Linked DNA regions of Homo sapiens. The protein of the gene in region 7 purifies or fractionates together with the protein of the main gene of each other region. This does not show direct contact. Each region holds a gene or a part of one and is shown on either strand. Other genes may lie near its edges.

The links.
Region 1: the proteins of NXPH3 (region 7) and NPC2 purify together in Homo sapiens (co-immunoprecipitation; one large-scale study listed by IntAct). This does not show direct contact.
Region 2: the proteins of NXPH3 (region 7) and PROS1 purify together in Homo sapiens (affinity purification with mass spectrometry; one large-scale study listed by BioGRID and IntAct). This does not show direct contact.
Region 3: the proteins of NXPH3 (region 7) and OAF purify together in Homo sapiens (affinity purification with mass spectrometry; one large-scale study listed by BioGRID and IntAct). This does not show direct contact.
Region 4: the proteins of NXPH3 (region 7) and SUFU purify together in Homo sapiens (affinity purification with mass spectrometry; 4 studies listed by BioGRID and IntAct, with this or other methods). This does not show direct contact.
Region 5: the proteins of NXPH3 (region 7) and OS9 purify together in Homo sapiens (affinity purification with mass spectrometry; one large-scale study listed by BioGRID and IntAct). This does not show direct contact.
Region 6: the proteins of NXPH3 (region 7) and CSPG4 purify together in Homo sapiens (affinity purification with mass spectrometry; one large-scale study listed by BioGRID and IntAct). This does not show direct contact.

What each region holds. Positions count from the first base shown.
Region 1 is NC_000014.9:74,483,306-74,486,805, reverse strand, and holds part of NPC2 (NPC intracellular cholesterol transporter 2 isoform 2 precursor), read left to right. Parts: intron 1-369; coding exon 370-477; intron 478-2,218; coding exon 2,219-2,391; intron 2,392-3,500. UniProt on the Homo sapiens protein: Intracellular cholesterol transporter which acts in concert with NPC1 and plays an important role in the egress of cholesterol from the lysosomal compartment.
Region 2 is NC_000003.12:93,971,097-93,975,285, forward strand, and holds the start of PROS1 (vitamin K-dependent protein S isoform 2 preproprotein), read right to left. Parts: upstream 2,801-4,189; 5' UTR 2,654-2,800; coding exon 2,578-2,653; intron 1-2,577. UniProt on the Homo sapiens protein: Anticoagulant plasma protein; it is a cofactor to activated protein C in the degradation of coagulation factors Va and VIIIa. It helps to prevent coagulation and stimulating fibrinolysis.
Region 3 is NC_000011.10:120,228,032-120,230,834, forward strand, and holds the end of OAF (out at first protein homolog precursor), read left to right. Parts: intron 1-836; coding exon 837-1,111; 3' UTR 1,112-2,303; downstream 2,304-2,803.
Region 4 is NC_000010.11:102,510,472-102,513,971, reverse strand, and holds part of SUFU (suppressor of fused homolog), read right to left. Parts: intron 1-3,500. UniProt on the Homo sapiens protein: Negative regulator in the hedgehog/smoothened signaling pathway. Down-regulates GLI1-mediated transactivation of target genes. Down-regulates GLI2-mediated transactivation of target genes. Part of a corepressor complex that acts on DNA-bound GLI1.
Region 5 is NC_000012.12:57,700,632-57,704,131, forward strand, and holds part of OS9 (protein OS-9 isoform 1 precursor), read left to right. Parts: intron 1-3,500. UniProt on the Homo sapiens protein: Lectin component of the HRD1 complex, which functions in endoplasmic reticulum (ER) quality control and ER-associated degradation (ERAD).
Region 6 is NC_000015.10:75,674,849-75,678,348, forward strand, and holds part of CSPG4 (chondroitin sulfate proteoglycan 4 precursor), read right to left. Parts: intron 3,039-3,500; coding exon 2,855-3,038; intron 2,537-2,854; coding exon 702-2,536; 3' UTR 1-701. UniProt on the Homo sapiens protein: Proteoglycan playing a role in cell proliferation and migration which stimulates endothelial cells motility during microvascular morphogenesis. May also inhibit neurite outgrowth and growth cone collapse during axon regeneration.
Region 7 is NC_000017.11:49,574,390-49,578,670, reverse strand, and holds the start of NXPH3 (neurexophilin-3 precursor), read right to left. Parts: upstream 2,801-4,281; 5' UTR 2,452-2,800; coding exon 2,398-2,451; intron 76-2,397; coding exon 1-75. UniProt on the Homo sapiens protein: May be signaling molecules that resemble neuropeptides. Ligand for alpha-neurexins.

The DNA.
Region 1 (3,500 bases), on a different chromosome or scaffold from region 7:
AAGAATGCGAGATAAGACTCTAGGAATGTTTGGAATTTCTCTGATTGAAGTTTAATTCCTTTAATATGATCATTTATGGATATGGTCTTGATATTATTTAGTTTGACAAATATTAACTTTCTCTTGATCAAAAAACCAACTAGCTTCTTTATCATCTGAATTAAAGGCTATGATTTTAGCAGCAAGATGAATCAAGATTCTGACTTCTAATTGGGCATTATTCTTAAAGATTCCATCCTGGGAAACAGTCCGAGGAGAATGAGTTGACCCTAAATGGGAGAGCAGAGCACCTTCCCATTAGGTGGTGGGCAGCCTAGCTGGCTTATTTCTCCTCCTATTCTCCTATTCCAATTCATTTTTCTTTTGCAGGTTCTGTGGATGGAGTTATAAAGGAAGTGAATGTGAGCCCATGCCCCACCCAACCCTGCCAGCTGAGCAAAGGACAGTCTTACAGCGTCAATGTCACCTTCACCAGCAGTGCGTAAAAGTGGCTCTTAACTCAAATTCATGTTACAGCATAACCTAAATATCAAGTGTTGGAATAAGCATGGGAATGGAGGGGAGGGGAATTGGCAGTCATGAATTTTATGATTTCTTTTGCACCTCATGCAAAGCTAGGGTTCACTGTGCCCTTGGACACCCTTCTCATGCAGGGTCCATGGCTCCCAGACTCCCTTTAAGCAAACAGGGAGATGTCCATGTGTTCACAGGTTAGAGAAGACAGCTTGGCTTTTCTGTCTTGACCCATATTGCATAGTAGGCTATGATGGGAATGTCAGCTCTGTTTAGCTACAGACTGCAGAGTATTAGTATGGACCCCAATTCTTTAAGCTTTGGAACTCCTCCAAAATGTTGTTTTAAGCAGTAATGCCTTTCAGCTATTAAGTCTACATCCCACCTGAAAATAAAGGTGCAACTAATACTTAACAGCCTCCTTAAGATTTAGGGAACCCACTGGGGACCCAAGAAATAGCCAAGAAATCTGAGCTTTCTTCTCCAATATTCAAGAAATATCATTGGAACTTTTTGCTTTCTTGTACCACATCACTTTGAGATTTTTAAGAATCTAGACAAATGTAAAATCTTTTATTACTAAGCAGGGCATGTTCCTTGAATCTTTTCCTCATTTTCTGTCCTGTGAAACTAGACTAGACAGTCTAATAAGAAACCTCAAAGTTCCTGTCATCTTTTGTTCATAAGCCTAAAGACAGCTCTAAGTACTAGCTCCCTGTTTCCTCTCTGGACTATACCCTGGCCTCTCTATTGTTCCAAACCAAAAAAAAAAGCCTTCTGAACAAGTCATCCCCAACCCAGACAGAAGGAAAGAAACAGAACCAATTTTCTGGGTCTCCAAAATACCCTAATAACTCATAAGTCTGATTGCCCTCATTTTTTAATACCTTTATTCCTCCTGGCCATCTTGTGATGTGGAGGGTAAAGTTTATAAAGAATTGCATGTCTTTCTAATCTTACCCAATTTCTTTTTTTTTTTTTTTTTTTTTTTTTTTTTTGTGACAGAGTCTCGCTCTGTCACCCAGGCTGGAGTGCAGTGGCGCAATCTCAGCACACTGCAACCTCCGCCTCCTGGGCTCAAGCGATTCTCCCGCCTCAGCCTCTTGAGTAGCTGAGATGACAGGCATGCGCCACCACGCCCGGCTAATTTTTGTAGTTTTAGTAGAGACAGGGTTTTTCCATGTTGGCCAGGCTGGTCTCAAACTCCTGACCTCAGATGATCCACCCGCCTCAGCCTCCCAAAGTGCTGGGATTACAGGTGGGAGCTACTGTGATCCAGCCTAATCTTACCCTGCTAAAGGGTTACCTCTTTCACTGTTGTTACAGACCATGACATTTAAGACACACAATATACTTGGACAGAAGCTGATATAAATAGCAAACAGAAAGTTTACTGCCAAAAATCAGTTGCCTTGTTAGATAAGGTTGTTTATCCAGGTATCTCTGATTCTCCTAAGAAACTGTGAAGGGCCATGAAGAGCAAGGTTAAGAGCAAAGAAAACTTCTGCTGATTGTTTTTTTTTTTTTTTTTTTTTTTGCATAATTGTGTTTGGAGTGAATGCTTGCACTGTGCTAGTACCAAGCACCACTATCAAGAGAAATAGACCCTAGGAATGCTGTTGCTTGGGATTATTTCTGAATTTTTGATTTAGAGTTTGAAAATAGGTTATTTTCTTTGCCATCTGATTCTCTTTTTTTCTCTTAGATATTCAGTCTAAAAGCAGCAAGGCCGTGGTGCATGGCATCCTGATGGGCGTCCCAGTTCCCTTTCCCATTCCTGAGCCTGATGGTTGTAAGAGTGGAATTAACTGCCCTATCCAAAAAGACAAGACCTATAGCTACCTGAATAAACTACCAGTGAAAAGCGAATATCCCTCTGTAAGTGATACCATTATTGAGGACACGGGAGGCCTTGGGACTGGATTAGAGTTCTGAGGGCAGTGGGCAAGAAGCAGAGATGGGGGTAAAGGGCCCCTTATCTCTATGATGAAGAAGAAGCCCGAGGGAAAGGAGATAGGTGCGGTGTTAGGCATCAGGAGGTAGGGCAGGTCTTTTTCTCTGTGTCTCTTCATTCTTTCACTATGACCTGATGGTTAGCCTGGGCCTAATGATGCCATTTGTTTTTTAATATACTAAAATTTAATCATACATAAGAACTGTAATTTAATCTGACAGTAAAACACAAGAAGCAATATTAGAGTTGGTTTAGTATATTGTATATTTTAGCTTTGAAAGTCGTAGAAATCAGTTACCCCAGTTTTTTTCCTATAAAAGACCCATTTTTCCAAAGCATTATGCACAATTTCAATTAGAATATAATGACAGAGGATATTCCATAATTTTTAAAATATAAAATGAGGTAATTGATTCAAAAAAGTTATCTACTGCAATATCAATATCATTACAGATATAAAGTATGATGGTTCAACTTTTTAGTGCTTGATAGGGAGGAATCATGATAAAAAGGTCAATATGAAATCATTTGATTATAGTAGCAATATCTAACATTTGAAATGCATCCATGCTCTTTTGTATAATCATATTAGAGTCAAGTATATTTTCACATCTGTTATGTCTTATTTTCCAAGAGATATACACAGAGCAGTTTTTTTTCTCCAGGGAACTTATACAAACCAATATAAGATCTAAATTCTTCACATAATGTATAAAACAGGAGAAGCCTCTTCAAATTTATTTTTTGAAGTCTGGAATGCTGGCACTTTCCAATTAGGCAATAGTTCTTCATTCCTGTAACCTAGCTCAGAGCTGCTGCTGACTATGGGCCTAGAGCAGCAGACATGATTTCTTTTTAGGCTGTTTCTTTTCCACTGGTGTTTTTCTATTTATCTGTCTGACCAGGTCATAAAATATTTCATTAACATTGACCTTTGACTTTGCAGATTATTCTAAAATGGCACAGTTCCATCACTGTCATGCTAAATTCTGGCCCTGTTCTTTGCCAACTACTCACTCATCTTCCAGGTCAC
Region 2 (4,189 bases), on a different chromosome or scaffold from region 7:
TTTGGGAGGCTGAGGTGGGCAGATCACTGGAGGTCAGGAGTTCAAGACCAGCCTGGCCAACATAGTGAAACCCTGTCTCTACTAAAAATACAAAAATTAGCCGGGTATGGTGGTGCATGCCAGCTGGTGCAATACCAGCTACTTGGGAGGCTGAGGTGGGGGGATCACTTGAACCCAGGAGGCAGAGGTTGCAGTGAGCTGGGATCACGCCACTGCACTCCTGCACTCCAGCCTGGGCAACAGAGCAAGACTCCATCTCTAAATAAATAAATAAATAAATAAATAAATAAATAAATAAATAAATAATTCTAAATAAAGAACTACACAATGAATTACAAATAAAATATTTACAGCTCTAATTATATCTCAGATTTAAAATCATATGGAGGCTGGGCACAGTGGCTCACACCTGTAATCCCAGCACTTTGGGCAGCCAAAGTAGGCAGGCCGCTTGAACCCTGGAGTTCAAGACCAGCCTAGGCAATATGGCAAAACACCAACTCTACCAAAAAAACAAAACAAAATAAAAACCACACACACACACACACACACACACACACACACACACACACACATAAATTAGCTGGGTGCGGTGCTAGATAGGTGCTGATCTGGGAGGATCCCATGAGCTCGGGAGGGGGAGGTTGCCATGAGCTATGATCATGCCACTGCACTCCAGCCTTAGTGACAGAACTAGACCGTCTCAAAAAAGTAAATAAATAAAAATAAAGTAAAATCAAATCATATGGATTAAAAACATCACATCTATATCCAAATTTCCTCATAAGTAAACCACAGATGACTTTTAATCCAATTAAGCAATCAAAAACTTTTAACTGAAAGCATTATGGGGCCAACTATTCTTTATGTGATATACTTGAAGAATTAATTTATCTGCTCTATCAGTGTTATATATAACAAGTGTAATTCCCCATATGTTTATATATAATACACATACACAAACCCATATAATTTTTACCTCTGCCTAGATTCAGTCAAAATGTAACAATCTCTACAAAGAGAAAAAGCCTAGCAAATTTCTATGATGACAAGGAGTTAAGTGTGGCAAGCTACTTTGCCTTTCTCCTCTCCAAAACACTAGCTATGAAGCAAATATTTAATTGTCCTAATGAACTATTTAGGTAATAAGCGCATGTAGTTACAAATTGGCTGAATGATAGGGGTTTGAATGCTGAAGTTTTGCAATTGTAGCTGTTTAATGTAAGATCAAAAAATAATGTTTTAGTCCCAAGTTAGATTTTTAAAGTACTGCATTCATCCTGATGACTAACTAATAGAAACTAGTGGAATGTTAGCAAATTGATATATAATTTTCTAGAAATTTCCATCTTCAAAAAGTTTACTTTGGAGCTCTAGACTCCTAAAAGTTATTTGTAATTCAGAGTTCTCACTCCTGTTCCAATCCCTGAAAATAAAACATAGAACAAGAAGTCATTTTTGGCCAGGTGCGGTGGCTCACGCCTGTAATCCCAGCACTTTGGGAGGCCAAGGCGGATGGATCACCGGAGGTCAGGAGCTCGAGACCAGCCTGGCCAACATGGTGAAACCCCGTCTCTAGTAAAAATACAAAAAAAAAAAAAAAATAGCCGGGTGTCGAAGCAGGCACCTGTAATCCCAGCTGCTCGGGAGGCTGAGGCATGAGTATCACTTGAAGCCGGGGGGCGGAGGTTGCATTGAGCGGAGATCCAGCCACTGCAGTCCAGCCTGGGCAGCAGAGCGAGACTCACCCTCAAACAAACAAACAAAAAGGCGTTTTTATTCAATAAACACACTTACAACTTTAGAAAACAAATTAACTGACCACTAAAATGTACTAATTGCCTTGGTATTCCTTATATATTTTTCAGAGAAAACTCAATATCCTGTCTTGAATCCGGGCATAAGGACATAAAGAACCTGAAACACAAAGATAAAGAATTCATGCCACCACCTCAGATCAGTGGCATGCAGTGTTAAAAAATCCTCAGTACAAACGATCTGAGAAATAGAATACAGTATTTAACAGTCCTTTTGATTTCAGGGTTAGAAAGTGACATATATCTACTGCTATACAAACCCTCAGTCATCCTAAAACATTTCGTTAATGTGAGACAAGCAAACCAAGCTCAAAGTCCAGAAATTGCAAAAGGGAGGCAGGTTTCAGGAGACGGGTGCAGGTTGGGGGCAGGCGCTTGGACAAAGGGAAGACACAGTGTGTTACCTTTTCTTCCCTACTCATAAGCTAGAATCTGCTCATCCTAGTTCTCTGACTGGGAACTTCAGCTTTGAAGGGAAATGGGCAGGTGTTCTCATCCCTCCATTGATACTTAGTGTCATCTAGGTTCTTAGATCTGTCCTGTAGGCAATACATTCTCGCAACTGTGCAAATAGTGATCCTGCCCCACCATTGCACTGCCTGCTCTATCCACGGCTGTTTCCATCCGCTGGGTGTCTGTCGGTACTTACTGGAAACTTTCTAGGAGGCTGCAGCTCTAGAGAAGAAAATCCTACCAACCAGGGCACGCAGTTCAGTCGACAATGCTGGGGAAGGGAGAAGAGACGCTATTGATTACTCACAGTTTGCCTCTGAGACGGGAAGCACTAGGAGGAGACACGCCAGCAGCGCCCCGCAGCGCCCACCCAGGACCCTCATTTCGAAGCGCGCGGAGGCGCCGGCAGGGACGGTGGCGCGTCGCGGCGGGGACCGGAGCGCTAGGCGCCGCGGAGCTGCGAGCCTGTGCGCCTCGGTCTGAGCCGTGCTGCGCGGCGGCGCCAGCGACCCAGCGAGCCTCGGCGGAACAGCCGGGGGCGGAGGAGACCGCCCGCTCCCAGCGCCCAGCCCGAGAGGGGAAGTGATAACAAGGACATTTCCAGGAAGCTTTTCGGAGCTGGGGGATGGGCTCTAGTGTTGGAGGCCTAGTAAACACTGCTGAGACATCCTTCTTCACCAGCTCCCTAGTTGCTGCTTTTCCTCCACAGTGTGACGTTTCCAAAGGGGAAGGGGTGGGGAACGCAGTTCTCTGACTGGTCAAGACAACTTCCAGGGTTCAAGAGGACAGGATCCCTAGGTTCAGAAGCAGAAACAGTGAGACACTGAGTTGTCCCTGAAGATATTAACCAAAACCTGGAAGTCAATGAGGACTTTAGGAAGAACTATGGTGATAGTAAAAGCAAATGGGGTCATTTTGATCATCCACATGTTTTTTCGGTCTTGTATGCCATACAGGCATAAAAATAATGTAAAGAACATGAAGAAAAGAAGGGAATATTAGAATAATCTACCTTAAAAAAAATCTTGCTCCGATAAAGACTTCAGTTGAAAGTGAATATCTATCTATACATCTACCTATTTATTAATTTAAAAAAATTTTTTTTTTTTTTGAGACAGAGTCTCACTCTGTCGCCCAGGCTGGAGAACAGTGGCGCAATTTCGGCTCACTGCAACCTCCACCTCCCGGGTTCAAGTGATTCTCCTGTCTCAGCCTCCTGAGTAGGTGGGATTACAGGCGCCTGACACCATGCCTGGCTAGTTTTTTTGTATTTTTAGTAGAGACAGGGTTTCACCATGTTGGCCAGGCTGGTTCTGAACTCCTGATCGTGAGTGATCTGCCTGCCTCGGTCTCCCAAAGTGCTGGGATTACAGGTGTGAGCCACCACACCTAGCCTTATTTATTTATTTATTTATTTATCCGAGACAGGGTCTCACTAGGTTGCCCAGACTGGAGTGCAGTGGTGCAATCATAGCTCACTGCAGCCTCGAACTTCTGAGCTCAAGCAATCCTCCTGCCTCAGTCTCCTGAGTACCTAGGACTACAGTCACACACCACTATGCCAGGCTAATTTTTTAATTTGTTTTTTTTTTTTTTTTTTTTTTTTGGTAGAGATGGTATCGCTGTGTTGCCCAGACTGGTCTGGAACTCCTGACCTCAAGTGATCCTCTTGCCTTGGCCTCCCAAAGCTTTGGGATTACAGGTGTGAGCCACTTCTCCTGGCCTGAATATCTTTTTAATACCACAAATTTGCATCACATTGCCAGTAATAATTGTCAACACTGAAAATTTATGTGTCCTACACTGTAACGTCAAACTTTGTAAAACCATCTGGAATCTATTAATATACAATTTGACAATACATCTTTCAATAAAATTCTGGGTTTTTAATTAATCTCAGAAGTTAACTTTGTGAAAGT
Region 3 (2,803 bases), on a different chromosome or scaffold from region 7:
GCCCCACTGTGGGTGTGCTTTGCTGGCCCTTCTCTGCCTAGCCCTACTCAGATGTCACTTTTTTTTTTTTGAGATAAAGTCTCACTGTTGTCCCCCAGGCTGGAGTGCAATGGCACGATCTCGGCTCACTGCAACCTCCGCCACCCGGGTTCCAGCAATTCTCCTGCCTCAGCCTCCAGGATAGCTGAGATTATAGGTGCCCGCCACTGTGCCCAGCTAATTTTTGTGCTTTTAGTAGAAACAAGGTTTCACCGTGTTGGCCAGGCTGGTCTCAAACTCCTGGCCTCAGGTGATCCACCTGCCTCAGACTCCTAAAGTGGGATTACAGGCATGAGCCACTGTGCCCGGCCAGATGTCACCTTTTTTAAGAAGCCTTCCTTGACTTCCAACCTTGTCTCCCCACGCCTCTATCTCAGCACACTCCGGTATGGTGATTTTTTAAAGCATTGGGTGGCAGTGTGGTCTAGTGGAGGCCTTGAAACCTTGGCCAGATCATTAAACTCTGGGTCGATGTTCTCATCACTAAAACAGGGATGACGATACTTAGCCCATGGGGTGACTGATGGAGGTACTGTAAGTAGAGCCCGTAGCACACAGTTGATGCCATAGAGGAGGGTGATTCCTATTTAATCTGTTTCTCCCACGAGCCCAGCAAGGAGGAGCCTAGTAACCAGGTCTTACCTCTGTGTCCCATGGCAAGCTTGGAAATGGAGGTGTCTGTAAATGCCTGTGGGATGACAGAGGAGACCAAGTGGGGAATGGCAGCGGCCTCTGACTAGGGGAGCTCCTTCCCTCCCTCCCTCCCTCCCTCCCTGATCCTTGCCTCTCTCCCCCAGGTGTGGACAGTTCTGTGTTCGAGGCTCTGCCCAAGGCCTCAGAGCAGGCGGAGCTGCCTCGCTGCAGGCAGGTGGGGGACCACGGGAAGCCCTGCGTCTGCCGCTATGGCCTGAGCCTGGCCTGGTACCCCTGCATGCTCAAGTACTGCCACAGCCGCGACCGGCCCACGCCCTACAAGTGTGGCATCCGCAGCTGCCAGAAGAGCTACAGCTTCGACTTCTACGTGCCCCAGAGGCAGCTGTGTCTCTGGGATGAGGATCCCTACCCAGGCTAGGGTGGGAGCAACCTGGCGGGTGGCTGCTCTGGGCCCACTGCTCTTCACCAGCCACTAGAGGGGGTGGCAACCCCCACCTGAGGCCTTATTTCCCTCCCTCCCCACTCCCCTGGCCCTAGAGCCTGGGCCCCTCTGGCCCCATCTCACATGACTGTGAAGGGGGTGTGGCATGGCAGGGGGTCTCATGAAGGCACCCCCATTCCCACCCTGTGCCTTCCTTGCGGGCAGAGAGGGAGAGAAGGGCTCCCCAGATCTACACCCCTCCCTCCTGCATCTCCCCTGGAGTGTTCACTTGCAAGCTGCCAAAACATGATGGCCTCTGGTTGTTCTGTTGAACTCCTTGAACGTTTAGACCCTAAAAGGAGTCTATACCTGGACACCCACCTCCCCAGACACAACTCCCTTCCCCATGCACACATCTGGAAGGAGCTGGCCCCTCAGTCCCTTCCTACTCCCCAACAAGGGGCTCACTATCCCCAAAGAAGGAGCTGTTGGGGACCCACGACGCAGCCCCTGTACTGGATTACAGCATATTCTCATCTCTGGCCCCGAGGCTGCCTGTGGGGCGAGTGGAGACCTCCCATCACTGAGACAGATCACAGACCACGAGTGCCTTTCCCGGACCTGGACGTTGCCTCCAGAGCAGGCACCAGCTCTTTCCCTCTCTACACAGAAATATTTTTGTAAGGTTCTGGGGCAGGGAGGGAGCATGAAGTACGAGGAAAACTTGAATTCCAGATTTTTAGTGCAAAGTATTTATCATTTCTACCAGAAATAAACGTTTTAAGTTTTTACTTGACTAATGAGACCCAGAGTTTGGAGAAAACTTTTGGCCAATGCTGCCACCTGATGTCAGAAAGTGTCCCCACACCCTAGCAGTGGCCTATCTTGGAACAAGAACTTCGAAAGCACCTACTGTGTGCTCAGCCATTTGAGGAAGGAAGGAGGAGAAGGAAGATGTTACTAGGGAAGGATGAGATAAAACTTCTGCACCCAAGACAATGAGACAGACATAGCTGCAACCGTAGTAAGCCAGTCAGAAATAGCCAGCGCGAAGGCAAGAGATGGGGTGGAGATTGGAACCCCGCTTCAGATCTGGGCTCGGCTACTTACCTGCTGTGCAGCCATGGGTCAAGTTGCTTGACCTCTCTGTGCCTCCACTCCCTTAGCTATAAAATGAGCTTACTTAAGAGACCGAAGTGAATTCTTGCATGTCAAGCATCTAGCACATAGTGCTGTTAGCCATTCTTAGTATCATTACTATTAGTGAAAAAAGCAGACATTCCTGCAGCTATAAGCCTGACTCAATGAAATCAGACATCTGGAAGGCTCTTCACTTCCAAAGTATCTTTCAACATGAAGAGGCTGTAATAGGAAGTGCCGGGCAGGGTTCTGGATGGTTCCAGAGCGAGGGATGTGCAGGCTGCATGTATTGGGAAAGGCTTTCTGGAAGAGTTGGGGTGTGGGTTGAGGCTGGAAGATGGTAACGATTTGGCAAGGTGGAGGCAGGAGTGTTTTAGGGGTTGGAAGAGTCTCATGGGTTCCCCAGGTGACCCAACTTTCTCAAGGAAGAGATGGGGACAGTCAGATCCTTCCTTGAAGGCCTTGGCGAGGGAAGGGGTTTGCAGGGTGGTCCCCTTTACTCTGCTCCCAGAACTCCCAGAACAGGCTGCAACTGCCCCTTGAACTCAT
Region 4 (3,500 bases), on a different chromosome or scaffold from region 7:
TTGAGGCTGCAGTGAGCCGTGACCTCGCCACTGCCCTCCAGCCTAGGCAACAGAGCGAGACCATCTCAAAAATAAAAATAAAAATAAATTCATATCAGTTTAAAAAAGGAGAGGATAACTTAAAAGGAACATGAAGTAAATAATACTACAAGTGGCAACAATTATGAAAGTGGCACTAGAAGTTTTTGAAATACTGAGCTAGAAGGTTTTTCAAGTCCCTCTCACTCCTAAAAGCGTTGTTGGTACCGCGTCAGGCTGCAGATGGCATCCCAGGCCCCTTCCTACAGGGTTCCTCTCAAACGCTACCTCCTCACTGCAGCCTCTAGCAATTCAGCAGCCTCACTAGAAGTTACTCCCTCTGCTCTGCTCCCAGACCGTGTTTTACACCCATGGACTGTAGCATTTATTACTCAATATTATAACCATCTTTACATGTTTATCTCCCCTCTAGAACATGAGCTCCTTCAGACAAGAATTATGTCTTGCTATTTTATCCCCCAAGACATCTATTACGATGTTCTGTGTCTGATACAAAGTAGGTGCTTGATGAATGTGTGCTGAAAAAATGAATCAATGCTTCTGCTCCTTTTTTGCTGAAGAGAAGACACAGACAGTGGAAGAATTGTTGCCAGAGATCCATTTGCCATCATTCCAACCCAGCGCCCCTTAGCACTTAAGCTGGATGGCAGAACACTTGCCTTTCTGGCCTAGCTTTGAGTACTAATTTAAATGAGGATTCATTAAGTCATTTTAAAGAGGCCCCACCATTACGAAATGTGTGGAAAATCACATTTTTCTTCAAGAAACTTAACAGGATCAAAAAGAAACCAGTCATCCCAGTACAAAGCCAATTATAAAGGTACCTATTCGTGTTTTATTATTTTTCTTTCTTTATTTATTTTTTGAGATAGGGTCTCGCTCTGTTACCCAAACTGGAGCGCAGTAGTGCAATTATGGCTTACTGCAGCTTCAAACTCCCAGGCTCCAGTGATCCTCCCACCTCAGCCCCCCAAGCAGCTAGGGCTACGATGCACACCACCATGTCTGGCTAATTTCTGTATTTTCTGTAGAGATGGGGGAGGGTCTCACTATGTTCCCCAGGCTGGTGTCAAACTCCTGGGCTCAAGCGATCCTCCTGCCTTGACCTCCAAAGTGCTAGGACTATAGGCATGAGGCACCATGCGCAGCCTATAGAAGTACTTTTGACTTCTGCAACATAGACCAGAACTGGGTAAATATCTGAGAACATTCCTTCCACATTCTTCTAGTGCCAGGATGTAATACTGGAAAATACTAGGCTTGATTGGTGACATGAAAACCCAAATAGAGGTTTCACTCTTGTCATAAATGACATATGAATACAAAGTGCTGTACCATGTAGAAATGAAACACATGTAAGAGGATAGTATTAAACCAGAAAAAAACAATAAGAAAGGTCCTATTTCAAATTAAGAGGTTGCCCCTTCTGAAATATGAGGCTTGCTCAATCACATTCTTCATGTTATTTTGGGCCTTGGGCCTATACCTAGCAGGTAGACTGGAAGAATCCTTAAGCCACATAGGAAATGATATTCTTTTAACCAGAATAAATCTGTCAACAAAAAGGTACAGGCTAGCTGCACTAAATACTCTCTGCAGGTTCTTATTAAAAATATAAATTAAGGTCCAGCATAGTCTCTTTACTCCCCACATCTGTTTGCTATTCTATCTCCATTATTAATACTGTAATGCTGGGTCCCCATTCAGGCAAGATTAATTCCCTCTTCCCAAATCCTTCTGCTGACACTGCAATGAATCCATTTGGAAGGCTGTAAAGGCAGCTGCAGACATTGCTCCCAACACGTGACCAGCGAAGAGATGAAACCTGGGCCTCTGAGCTTAACAAGAGAGAAGAGGAAGTTGGGTTAGGCCTGTGTTCAGAGAGGTGGAATAGCCCAGTGGTTAAAAGCTCAAACTCTGAGGCTGAATACAGTGGTTCACGCCTGTAATCCCAACACTCTGGGAGGCCAAGGCAGGAAGATCGCTTCAGCCCAGGCATCTGAGACCAGCCTGGGCAACATAGTGAGACCTCAACTCTACAGAAAATTTGAAAAATTAGCCAGGTGTGGTGGTGCATGCCTGTAGTCCCAGCTCCTTGGCAGGTTAAGGTGGGATAATTGCTTGAGCCCAGGAGGTTGAGGCTGCAGTGAGCCATGACTGAGCCACTACACTCCTGCCTGGGTGACAGAGCGTGACCCTGTCTCAAAAAACAAAACAAAAAAGCTCAAACTTTGGACTCAAACAGCCCAATTCAATCCCAGCTCTTTTACCCCTAGATCTGTAACTTTAGCAATTCATTTAACCCCTCAAGAGACTCATTTTTCTTATCTATAAAATAGGAATAACGAGACCCTGATAAGATTGTAAAGCATTTAACACAATGACACGGAAGACAGTAAGTACTAAACAAAGGGAAAAAAGGCTATCATCATCTTCTTTATGATACCATCATCATCTCCAGAATTGGTCGCTATGCAAAGGCAGGACAGGACGAGTCCTGCTACTCTTTCAACCTGCCCAGGTTAAGCAGCCACCACCAAGATAGAAAAGACATGGTATAAGGGGCAAAAAAGTACAAAAGGCAAAAACCAGAAGAGGATATGACAATACAAATAAAATCAGCTCTTGATTAACCATGCTAATGAGGTTGAGGGAAGACTATTTATTTTATTTTTAATTGACAGAATACAAACATAGAAAGATTACATTTAAATTGAAGAAAAGAAACTCTCCATCAAAAGAATATAAATAAAAAAAACTTTGTTTATTTTCATTATTATTATTATTATTATTACTTTTTTTTTTTTTTTTGAGATGGAGTTTCACTCTTGTTGCCCAGGCTGGAGTACAATGGCACAATCTTGGCTCACTGCAACCTACTCCTCCCAGGTTCAAGCAATTATCCTGCCTCAGCCTCCCTAGTAGCTGGGATTACAGGCATGTGCCACCACGCCCGGCTAATTTTATTATTTTTAGTAGAGACAGGGTTTCTCCATGTTGGTCAGGCTTGTCTCAAACTCCCAACCTCAGGTGATCCGCCTGCCTCGACCTCCCAAAGTGCTGGGATTATAGGCGTGAGCCACCACACCCAGCCTAATTATTATTTTTTTAAGACACAGTTTCACTCTGTTGCCCAGGCTGGAGCACAGTGGCACGATCTCAGCTCACTGCAACCTCTGCCTCCCAGGTTCAAGTGATTCTCGTGCCTCAGCCTCCGGGGTAGTTGGGAGTACAGGCACATGCTACCATGCCTGGCTAATTTTTTGTATTTTTAGTAGAGACAAGGTTTCACCATGTTGGCCGGGCTGGTCTCGAACTCCTGACCTCAAGTGAGCCACCTGCCTCAGCCCCACAAAGTGCTGGGATTACAGGCATGAGCCACTGTGCCCAGCCAAAAAAAATCTTTTTAAAATATAGATGGTAGCAGGCCGGGCACAGTCGTCACGCCTGTAATCCCAGCA
Region 5 (3,500 bases), on a different chromosome or scaffold from region 7:
ACTGGTTAGCTATATGGAATTAAATAAATTCCTATTTATTGGTGTGTGTTTTAAGATGCAACAGACTAGAACATGTTGAAGGCTGTTGGGTGGATGTTAGCGGAAAGGAGGAGAGGGAGATCAAGGTACAGTAGAAAAAGTGAGAAAAAAATGCGGACAGGGCTGGGATGCAGAACCCTGGGAGAGCAATTTGCCTCTAAAGGAAGGTCTAGGGTAGTAGACCAACTCAATTCTTATAAAGTAAGATTCTAGAGATATCAAAGATTTTTTTAAGTTATAAAACATACAATTATACAAAAAAAAATGTCATAGAGACCCATAAATTCACTGCCAAGTTAAACAGATGTTAATGTTTTGCCTGATTTGTTTCAGATCTCTGGTTTAAAAAAAGGAATAAAATGCTTGTGCTAATAGCTAAAGCCCACCTTCATATTTAGTCACTCTCCCTCCCGCCAGAAACAACCACAACCCTCACTATGTTTGTTTTGTATTTTTATTACTGATATATATATTACAGACAATAGATAGTGTTTTGTGTTTTAAAATTATACATCAGGAGTATCAACTTGTTTTTTTCACTGATCAGTGTGTTTGCCATTCAATGGCATGACATGGAACTCTGGTTGAGTGATTTTTTTTTTTTTTTTTTTTTTTTTTTTTTTGAGACAGAGTCTCGCTCTGTCACCCAGGCTGGAATACAGTAGTGCAATCTAGGCTCACTGCAACCTCGGCCTCCTGGGTTCAAGCGATTCTGCTGCCTCAGCCTCCTGAGTAGCTGGGACTATAGGTGCCCACCACCACGCCCAGTTAATTTTTATATTTTTAGTAGGGAAGGGGTTTCACCATGTTGGCCAGGCTGGTCTTGAACTCCTGACCTCAAGTGATCCACCCACCTTGGCCTCCCAAAGTGCTGGGATTACAGGTGTGAGCCACCGTGCCTGGCCTGGTTGAGTGATTTTAATGTCTGTATTGTGTTTCATTGCTTACTTACCCATTCCTCTGTTGATAAACAGTTGGGTTTCAACTCTAATGCCCTTATACACAGTGCTGCAATGTAGGTCTTATTGTGAGTGTACAAGAATTTCTCCAGGGAAATACCTAGAAAGTAGAATCACTGGGTTACAGGAGTGTATGTTATTGGTGAATTCAATTTTTTGTTTGTTTTGTTTTGTTTTGTTTTTTGAGATAGAGTTTCACTCTTGTTGCCCAGGCTGGAGTGCAATGGCGTGATCTTGGCTCACTGCAACCTCCGCCTCCCAGGATCAAGCGATTGTCCTGCCTCAGCCTCCTGAGTAGCTGGGACTACAGGCGCCTGCCACCATGCCCAGCTAATTTTTGTATTTTTAGTGGAGACGGGGTTTCACCATGTTGGCCAGGCTGGTCTTGAACTCCTTACATTGTGATCCGTCCACCTTGGCCTCCCAAAGTGCTGGGATTACAGGTGTGAGCCACCATGCCTGGCCCTCAATTTTTTTAATGATTGAAAAAATATATAACCTAAAAGTTATCATTCTAACAGTCTTTAAGTGTACAATTCAGTGGAAACATTCAGTGTTCTATCACCATCACTACTATTTCCAAAACTTTTTTCATCATCCCAAACAAAAATAACTCCTATTTCTCCCTCTCCCAGACTCTGTTCTACTTTCTGTCTGTATGAGTTTCCTGTTCTAGGTACTTCACATGAGTGAAATCATACAAGATTTGTCCTTTTGTGTCTGGCTTATTTCACTTAGCATGGTGTTTTCAAGGTTCATCCATGTTGTAGCATATATCAGAATTTTATTTCTTTTTATGGCTTAATCATGTTCCATTGTCTGTATATACATTTTGTTTACCTATTTATCAATGGATGGACAAATAGGTTTTCATCTTTTGGTTACTGTGAATAATGCTGCGATGAACATTGGTGTACAAGTATCTGTTTGAGTCCTGTTTTCAATTCTTTTGGGTCTGTACCTAGGAGTAGAATGTGCCTTATGGTAATTCTAGGTTTAGTTTTTTGAGGAACTGCCAAACTGTTTTCCATAGCAGTTGCATCATTTTACATTCCTAGTAGCAGTGCACAGGGTTCCAGTTTCTCCACACTACCTCCATCACTTATTTTCCTTTGTTTTCTTTTTCTTTTTTTTCAGTAATAGCCATCTTAATGGGTGTGAAGTAGTATCTCATAGTGGTTTTTGATTTGCATTTACCTAGTGATTAATGATGTTGAACATCTTTTCATATGCTTGGTGACCATTTGTATATCTTTTTTGGAGAAATGTCTATTCAAATCCTCTGCCCATTTTTGAATTGAGTTGGTTTTTGTTGGTGAGTTGTGAGAGTTCTTTATGTAATAAATTCTGAATATTAATCCCTTATCAGATCTATGATTTGTAAGTATTTTCTCCCATCCTGTGGTTGCCTTTTTACTATCTTTTGTTTTGCTTTGTTTTTTGGAGACAGAGTTTCACTCTTGTTGCCCAGGCTGGAGTGTAATGGCGCGATCTCAGCTCACTGCAACCTCCGCCTCCCAGGTTCAAGCGATTCTCCTGCATCAGCAGTGTCCTTTGGTGCACAAAAGCTTTTAATTTTGATTTCCAAGAGTTTTATAGTTTTAGCTCTTAAATTTAGGTCTTTGATTCATTTGAGGTTAATTTTTTTTTCTTAGAGATGGGGGTCTCGTTATGTTGCCCAGGCTAGCCTCAAACTCCTGGGCTCAGGTAAGCTTCCTACTTCAGCTTCTGAGTAGGTGGGATTATAGGGGTGTGCCATTGTGCCCAGCTGCTGATTTTGAGTTAATTTTTGTATGTGGTGTAATTTTTGCATATGGTCCAACTTCATTGTTTTGAATATGGATATCCAGTTTTCCTGGCATCGTTTGTTGAAAAGACTGTCCTTTCCCCATGGAATATTCTTGGTATCCTTACCAAAAATCAGTTGACCATATATGTGAGGGTTTATTTCTGGCCTTTCTATACTATTCCATTGGTAAATATGTCTGTCTTTTTGCCAGTATCACACTGTTTTGATTATAGTAGCTTTGTATTAAGATTTAAGTCAGGAAATGTGAGTCCTCTAACTTTGTTCTTTTTTTAATATTGTTATGGATATTTGGGATCCCTGGACATTCCATGTGAATTTTAAGATTTTTTTTTTTCTATAAAAAACACCATTGGATGCCTTTCATTTCTTTTTCATTCCTAATCACTCTAAAACTTCCAGTATTATGTTGAATAGAAATGAAAAGAATGGCTGTCCTTGTCTTGTTCCTAATCTTAAGGGAGAAGCTTTCAATGTTTCACCATTGAGTATGACGTTAACTGTGGGTTTTTCTTATATGGACTTTATCAATAACTGAAGACATTCCCTCCTATTCCTAGTTGATTGTTTTTTTACATGAAAAGGTTATTGAATTTATCAAGTCCATTTTCTGCATCAGTTGAGATGATCATTTGGGTTTTTTCCCCTTCATTCTATTAATGTATATGACATTGATTTACCTATGTTGAACCATC
Region 6 (3,500 bases), on a different chromosome or scaffold from region 7:
ACACCCCCAGGGGCTCCATCAGTCCTGGCTAGCTCAGCACCATGTTAAATAGCTTCCTTGCAATCTCCCTTAAATAAACCCATCCCCAGAGCAACCTACCCACCCTGCACCCTGAATATATTATCCTATTGGCTTATGCCTTCTAGACTGGAGGCGCTCTCTCCTCTTGCCCTCTACTCCAGGGGATACCATCTCCCTAAAAAACCAGGGGAGGAAGTTTTTTTCTCAACTCTGGGGCAGAGACAAAGGGTGGCCTGGGTTGGAGTGGAAAAGCCAGGAATAGCTTCCTCTGTCCCTTCCCTCCCCAGGGTACTTCCTTCTCCTTGCCCTCTTAGCAGCCTGGGTCAGGCGCGACTTACCCAAGGTCACAGACCCAGGACCCAGAGTCATGACCCATGTAGGAGGTTACCCTGGTTTTGACAGCCCAAACCAGCTCCAGGGCAGGAGGACTGAACTTAAGCCTGCCTCCACCTTGGCCCCTGCAGTTCTCCAGGCTCGGAGTGAGCTGAGGGAGGTTCCAGCTCTTGACTCCACTCTGTCCCGGACCCCTGGGACTATCTCCCAGGACCCTCCACCCCTGGTGTCTCCAGGTCTCTCTTGCTCTGGGGATACTCAGACAGCACCAGGCATGGAAGCAATGGGGCCCGGGACATGGGCAAGCCTGTCCCTGGCCCGATCAGCATCTGGGCCCAGGCCAGGCCTCACACCCAGTACTGGCCATTCTTAAGGGCAGGGTTGGGTGTCCGGCAGAACTGCAGCAGCTCTGGGTCAGGCTGGCCTCCTGGAGGGGGCCCCTGGCCAGGCACAGCTGTGAGCGGGATGGCCTGGCCTGGCTCCACCTTGCGAAAGGTCTCGGTGTCACCAGCCAGGCCGTTGCGGGGCTTGGCAGTCAGGACCTGGACGTCATGCTTGCCCGTCTTGTTGCGTTTTCGGAGGTAGAAGAGCAGGGGCAGGATGAGCGCCAGGAGCAGAAGTACCAGGCACATGGGGATGATGACGCTGAACATGTTGGCCTCAAGGAAGCTCAGGAAGCCTCCCTTGGCCACAGCGGGCTCAGGGCTGGATGCCATGGGGCCTGGCTCGCCTGTGGGGGTGCTGCTCTCTGGCTTCCCTGCTTCCGTCCGGGCGGCCTCGGGGACACTGAGCAGGGCCACGCTGTAGGGCCGGGCAGCATTGTAAGGCTCAGTGGCAAAGTCCAGGGAGGCCACAGCAGGCGGGACGCCCTGTGCCCACAGCTCCAGAGTGAGACTGTCACCTGCGGGGCCGGGGGCCCTCCCCTCTGGCCTGCCCACCTCCAGCCCCAGCCTCCCGTCCTCAAGGTCCTGCTGAGTGAACTGCTCCACCAGCTGGCTGCCCCCGGGCTCCGTCCTGGCTCGGGGCACGCGGACCACGCGGCCATGCCGGGGTCCCTCCAGGAGGCGGAAGCGCGGCACACTGCCTGTGCGGTTGGCCAGCTCGCCAGCATCTAGGACGGTGGGGTCCAGGCGCAGGGTGGCACCCTGGGGCCATGGCCCACCTGCCCACACATGCAGCAGAGCCCTCACAGTGACGTTCACTACGGCTGATGCATTGACACCCCTAGCCAGTGCCAGGACTCTGAAGTGGTCATGAGAGGAGGAGAAGTTGGTGAAGGCAAAGACCACCTCGCCCTGGTCTATCTGGAATTGGCTGAAGGCCGAGGTGGGCCGCCCGCCCACCAGGAGATGCCCATACTGGGGTCCCTGGATGAGGCGGTATGCTGCCTCTGGCTCCTCCCGATCTGAAACCACCCGGAGCTGCTGCTGGCTCAGTGAGGAGCGCCCCAAAGCTTGGGGCACCTCCAGGGGTGCCCGCAGCTGCACCTCGATGGCGGATGGTAGGATGTCCACAGCCAGGGACATGGGCAGGGGTGGGCTGGCCCCATCAGACATGCTCAGCTGGAAGATGCCTGCCACGCTGCTCCCGTTGGCCACGAAGGCCAGCCGCCCTGAATCCACATCGGCTTGCGTGAAGCGGGTCACGGGCCCCAGGCCACCACCCACCAGGCTGAGGAAGCCGTTGTGGGGTGCCCGCTGGACCTCGTACTCAATCTCCCCAGGAGCTGAGTCTGGGTCCACCACACTCAGCTGGGCCCGGGAGATGGGGGCACGAGAGCCTCGGGTGAGCCGGAGTGGGACAGAGGCCTGTGGCTGAGGGGGCCGCTCATTTACATCCCTCACCGTGATGGCAAAGGCCTCTGAGGTTTGGGGTCCAGCCACGGAGGCCCCTGCTGGCCCCTGGAGGTGGGCACGAAAGTGGAAGCCATCCTGCTGGGTGCCCCCACCGCCGTGGGCATACACTAGCTGCCCTGCAGCCAGCTGGGACTGCAGGAAGTGGGGCTGCCCAGCATGGAGGGGCTCCTCGGACACCAACAGCTGGCCCCGGCTGGGGAACTGTGTGACCTGGAAGAGCACATCATGCTCTGAGCGCTGGGGTGATGGAACGCTGGCCAAGAGATTGGAGGCATCCAGAGCAGCCACGGTGATCCTGGCCCGCTGGCCCTCGGGGACCCAGAGACCTGGGGGTGGGACATAGGCTATGAGGGTCCAGCCCACTGAGGGGAGAGTGATGGACCCTCAGCTGGGGGTGCCTCAGGGCAAGGATGTGCCTCCCCCCAACCATCAAGCCAGGTCCTCCAGGGTGGGGCTCAGGGTTCCCAGGAGGATAAGGACTATGTCCCCGCTGTGATGTCAAAGCTTCCCCACTCACCCTCCCTGTGACTTCCCAGGTCCTGGGGGCTGAGACAGGAGCTGCTGACCCTGGCCTCGTGTCCCCTCCTCCTGGGCCTCTCCCATTGTCCCTCCCCACAATCTTGCCAGCTTATCATGCTGTTCACCTTTGTTCTTCCAGAGGTGGCTGGGGCGCTGGGGACAGGCAGCCTCAAAAGACACAGCCACAGCAAGGGTGGCGGCCACGTCCCGGGCAGGCGGCGAGGACAGCTGGAGCTCTAGGGTATCATGGGCCTCCCAAAAGGGCTCGGGGGGCATCTCATGCTCATACAGAATATTCCCAGCGTAGACCTAGGGGAGACACCATCGTGGGGTGAGAGGCAGGTCCAGCCTGTGTTGTCCAGACACTGAGCACTTTTGTCTCCTCAGGCCCCACTCTGGGCTCTCCTGGGTGTGCCCAGGTCTGTGCGTGTGACCCGCTGTCTCCCTCACTAACTCACTGGGTCACATCAGGCAATGCAGTGCAGAGCTGGGCTCTGGAGCCGGAGCCTGGGCTCAAACCCCAACTCTGCCACCCTGGGGAAATCGCCTAATTTCTCTGACCTCTGGGGAATGCAATGATCTGTCTGTGCTGCTCTCTAAAGCGAGTACTTCCTCTTGTGCACAGGATCCTATCCCCTCTTGCCTTCTGAAGACACCACTTCTACTGTCTCTTGGCTTTCTCCTATGGTGTCAGTTCCCCCCAGATGCATCATTCCCTTCATTATGCAACTATGCTATTCTTTTGTCTCACTTACATTAAAGCTATTTAAT
Region 7 (4,281 bases):
CCGGGGCTGGCCCTCGTGGTCATCACGCTCAGGGTCCTCTGAGCCGGGAGGACCATCATCCTGGCCACAGATGACCTATGGAGGGAGTTGTGAGTACAGTGAGAGCCCTGTCCCTGGAGGTCCACCACCCCCGCTACCAGCAGTACCCCTGTCCCTGCCACTTCACTCTGACCTGGGTGAGGAGCTCCTGCGTCTTGCCCACTGAAGCTGGGGGGCAAGTGTACACTCTAGCTTGTGTACATCTCAGGTTCTGACAGTTGGGTCACCCCCCCCCCCATTGTCCTTTCCTCACTGTCTTGGCCACTATTCAAATTCAAAGTCTCAAAGACCGACAATAATTCTCTCCAGTGAACTGTGGCACCAGGGACAACGGCTCCTACCCCTAGGGAGTCCCCAGTCTGATGGGGGAAGCCCAGCTTCTGATCTTGGGGAGCCCCCATCTAATTGCAGAAGCATCATCCCTGTGCTGACAGAGCCCCCAATTTGATAGGAAGTAGAATCCCTGCCTCTGTGAAATCCCCAGGCTGATGGGGGAGGCATAATCTCTGCTCTGAAACAGCCCCGAGTCAGACAGGGAAGCACCATTCTTATCCTGGGAGAGCCCCTGGTTTGACAGGAGAGGCCAGCCCCTGCCTTTTGGGACTTCCTAGTCTGTTGGGTAAGACACCGTCCCTACCCTAGGATAATTTCTACCCTTAGATGCAAAGAGAACCACCAGACAATGGAATAAGAAAGCAGAACACAGTGTAATTCTCAAGCACGAATATAGTTTAGGTTTGGCAAGAGAACTAGGGGAGACCCGGAGTGAATGCCACACCCAGGATGGCCATGGGAATGGAAAGCCAAACACCTCTCCAGGGTACACTGATGATGACATGCCACGATGTTACTTGCATTCTGAGGTAGGAGTTCTTATTCCCATTTCACAGATAAGGACACTGGGGCTCAGAGATTACAACACTACAAGGCTGAGTTCACATAGGGTCAGCCCTTCCTTTACACTCCACACTCCTGGCCTCACAGATCAGATGTGTCTTTTTGAAAGGGTTTTTATCCAGGCGCCATCCGCCTCTGGAATCTGCAGGGGCTCATCCTCCCTCTGCTGGATCAGCTGTGGTGACAACCCACACCTGGGAGATTCCTGGAGGTGCCACAGGGAGAGTGGGACAGCAGTGGGGGGCATCAGGGGGTTGACAGGGCTTCCTGAGGCGCAGCCTGGCTGTGGGTTTGCTCAGCTTTTGAAAGCAACCACTTGCCCTAGGTGTCTTTACTACCAGCACCGGGGGGCATCTGGATTTGGTGGTGACACTGGGGTGGGGACAGTAGGGTTCCAAGGGGCTGTGGGGTCCTCATGCCTGTGTTCTGGCCTGGGTGTTGCCGGCAGCTGTGTGCTGTGGCCGAGTCTGTCTCTGCCCCACAGTTCAGGCTGGCCCTGACTGCCAGGCCCCAGAGGTGGGGTAGAGGGACGGCTAGGACGGGAGGCTCGGGGTCTGGGTCTAGGGCTGCAGACCTGTAGGTACTTGCTCCTGAGGGTCACGGCTGAGTGGCTGGAGGGTAAAGGTGGGGCCGTGAGAAGGGAAGGGCTCTTCCCACAGTGGCATGGGGCGGTGGCAAGGGGCTTGTTGATTAAAGGGGCAGGTCCAGATGTGGGGCTGAGGCTTCACGACAGTATTGCGGGGAGGGTCAGCGGGCGCTCGGTCGGAGGGGAGTTAAGCCACGGGCTGGGTTCGGGGAGGGGATCCCCGGCGCCCTGGGTCGCCGAGAAGCCGCGGAGCCGGCGCACGGGGAGCGGGCTCTGGGCGCTCCGCTCAGCTGCCGCGAGTGCCTGGGGCGGGAGCCGCCTGCCCAAGTCCTGTGGGGCTCCGGCTGCGCGCAGCCGGGAGAGCAGAGGAAAACAACAGGCGGGGAGGGAGGGAGCGGGAGGGAAGGCGGGAGGGGAGGGACGCGGGGGCCGCCCCCCGCCTGGACCGGCTCTGTGCTCTGGGGGACCCAGAACCCGAGGCTCTCTGAGTCCCAGAGGTCAGGGGAAAAGCCTGCAGGTCACCAGCTCCACGACCCGCGCCCCACTCGCCCCCGGCTTCAGCGGTCCTGAGGCTCTGGGAAGGGGTAGGGTAACCCTGGCGACCCGGCTCCAGGCCTTTTTCCGAGCGCTGGTCGCACCTCCAGCCACCCGCTGCGGAGTGGGTGGGCCAGCCAAGCACCCTCTCCCCGCCCCTATTAACCCTATCTGTCCAGTCTCCGGCCTCGGACCCGCCCTCTCCCCCAGCCTCCAGTCTTCCCCGCCATCCCCGGGATGTCGGGGGAAGGGAGAAAGTTTCAGGGCTCGCAAGCTTCCCGCGCTCTCCCCCGATCCTCCGGGCCCCCGCCCCTCTGCGCAGCTCCCCTCGGACCACTCACCAGATAGAGGCTACCCTGCACCAGGAACACGAAGCAGCAGCGAGTCAGTTGCATCTTCCTCCTCCGCTCTCGTCCCCTCGCTCTCCCCTTCTCTTTTCGGGGTCCCAGGCCTCCTTCCCCTTCCTGCTCCTTCAGGCGCGCCGTCCCATGCTCCAGTCCCCGGCGGCCCGCGGCCCTCCCCTCAGCGGGTCGCCCAGGGCCGACCCCGCCCCCTTCGGTCCAGCTGTGCAGCCGCCGCCCCCCTCCCCTGGTCCAGCTGCGCGCGGCACGGCCCCCGCTCGAGGTCCCAGATGTGCGCCCCGAGCGCCTCGAAGGGCCCCAGCTGCGCCGTGGCTCTGCTGCTCCAGATCTGCGCTCGGCGCCCCCCTCGGCTCCAGCGGCGCCGCTCTCGCCCAGATGTGCTGGGGACCTGCGCGCGCGCCCGTCCTTGGTGCTAATTCCCCAAACCAGGCTGCTCCACCCGCCCCGTCGCGGCGCGCCCCCTGGCGGACGCCCCCAGCCGCGCGGAGCCCCGGCCGCCCGCTCCCCGCGCTGCGCTGCGCCCCGCCAGACTAGAGCGCTCCTGGCGCCCAGGCGGCTCCCGCTTCCTCGTCCCTCCCACCGGCGGCGGCGGCGGCGGCGGCAGGTACAGTGAGCCCAGCCGGTACCTCCGGAGTTAACTCCTCCCCTGCCGGCCCGCAGCCCGGGGACCTAGGACGCCGGCTCTCCAGCCAGGAGAGGACGGCACGCGGGGGCGGAGTAGCTCTTGGAGAGGAAGGGAGAGGGTGGTGGCCAGGGGATACGGACCCTACCGTTTCCACCTCTTTTGCAGGGCGCCCGTTCCCCGGGAGCGGGCAGCAAGAATCGGCTGCCCTGCCCCCAACTCAGGAGTCCTGGAATTAAGAAAGATCCTTTTTTTAAAAAACCCATTCTAAGAGCCAAAACCTGTGCTGAGGGAAGTCCTTCTGGGTGTCTAGCCTGCACTCCTTTTGTTATGATGTCTGCTCCTTCCCTCTTCTACTTTACTTGGAGGGGCTGAGATAATCCCTGGACCTTCTCGGTCCAGCCACTGTGACAGGAAGTATTTGGCTGGGCCCCTGGGCTGAAAAGGCTGTTAGGGGCCAGGCTAGATTCTGGGGCCGGGGGCAGGTCCTGAGAAGCTGGAGAGTGAGGGGAGCAAGGCCTTCCTGGAGCCTGTCCCTTCATTATTCACTACTTACCCTCTCTATGCCACAGGGGTCACCAGGCCGAGAGTGGCTCCTGTCCCAGTGGGGTCTCTGCAAACCTCCAGGGCAAGGAGGAAGAACACGACCCTGATCTGAGATTCCCAAAGATGGGGGCCCATCCTCCATCACCCCCACTCCATATCTTCAGGTCTCCCTCCTGGAATTCCAGGGTCCCTTTAGTCTGTAGAAAAATGAAAGGTCAAGTCCTGGCATCCCTTGGAGGCTATGAAGGTGAGGAGGCACCCCATCATTTGAAGTGGTCCCAGCTTGGGCTGGGCCCAAGGAGCACGGTGGGTGGGCACTCTGCTCTGTGGCCCTCCAAGGCCCAGCTTGGTCCCGTGGCTGCAACCCCGGCACGCACCCAGCCTCCTCCCCCACCATCTGCCAGGCGGGTGCGCGGGGAATGCAGATGAATCTTAATATCAGCCTGGGCCAAGTGCGATGAGGGAGACAGATTCTGCAAAACCCAGACAGCATCACAGAGCCCCCTGCATTTCCAGGCACCCTGGGCCATACCAAGATGCAACAGCTCTTTCTTGGTGTTGGTGGGGGGTGGGGTGGGTGGTGGCGTGCATGTCTAGTCAAAGACCCCCCCAAAGCCGGGGAGGCAGGAACAGGCAAATCTTTGTTTGGCCTCTAAGCCTCTGGTCTGGCTGGGAGGGAGAAGCTGTTGGCCTGA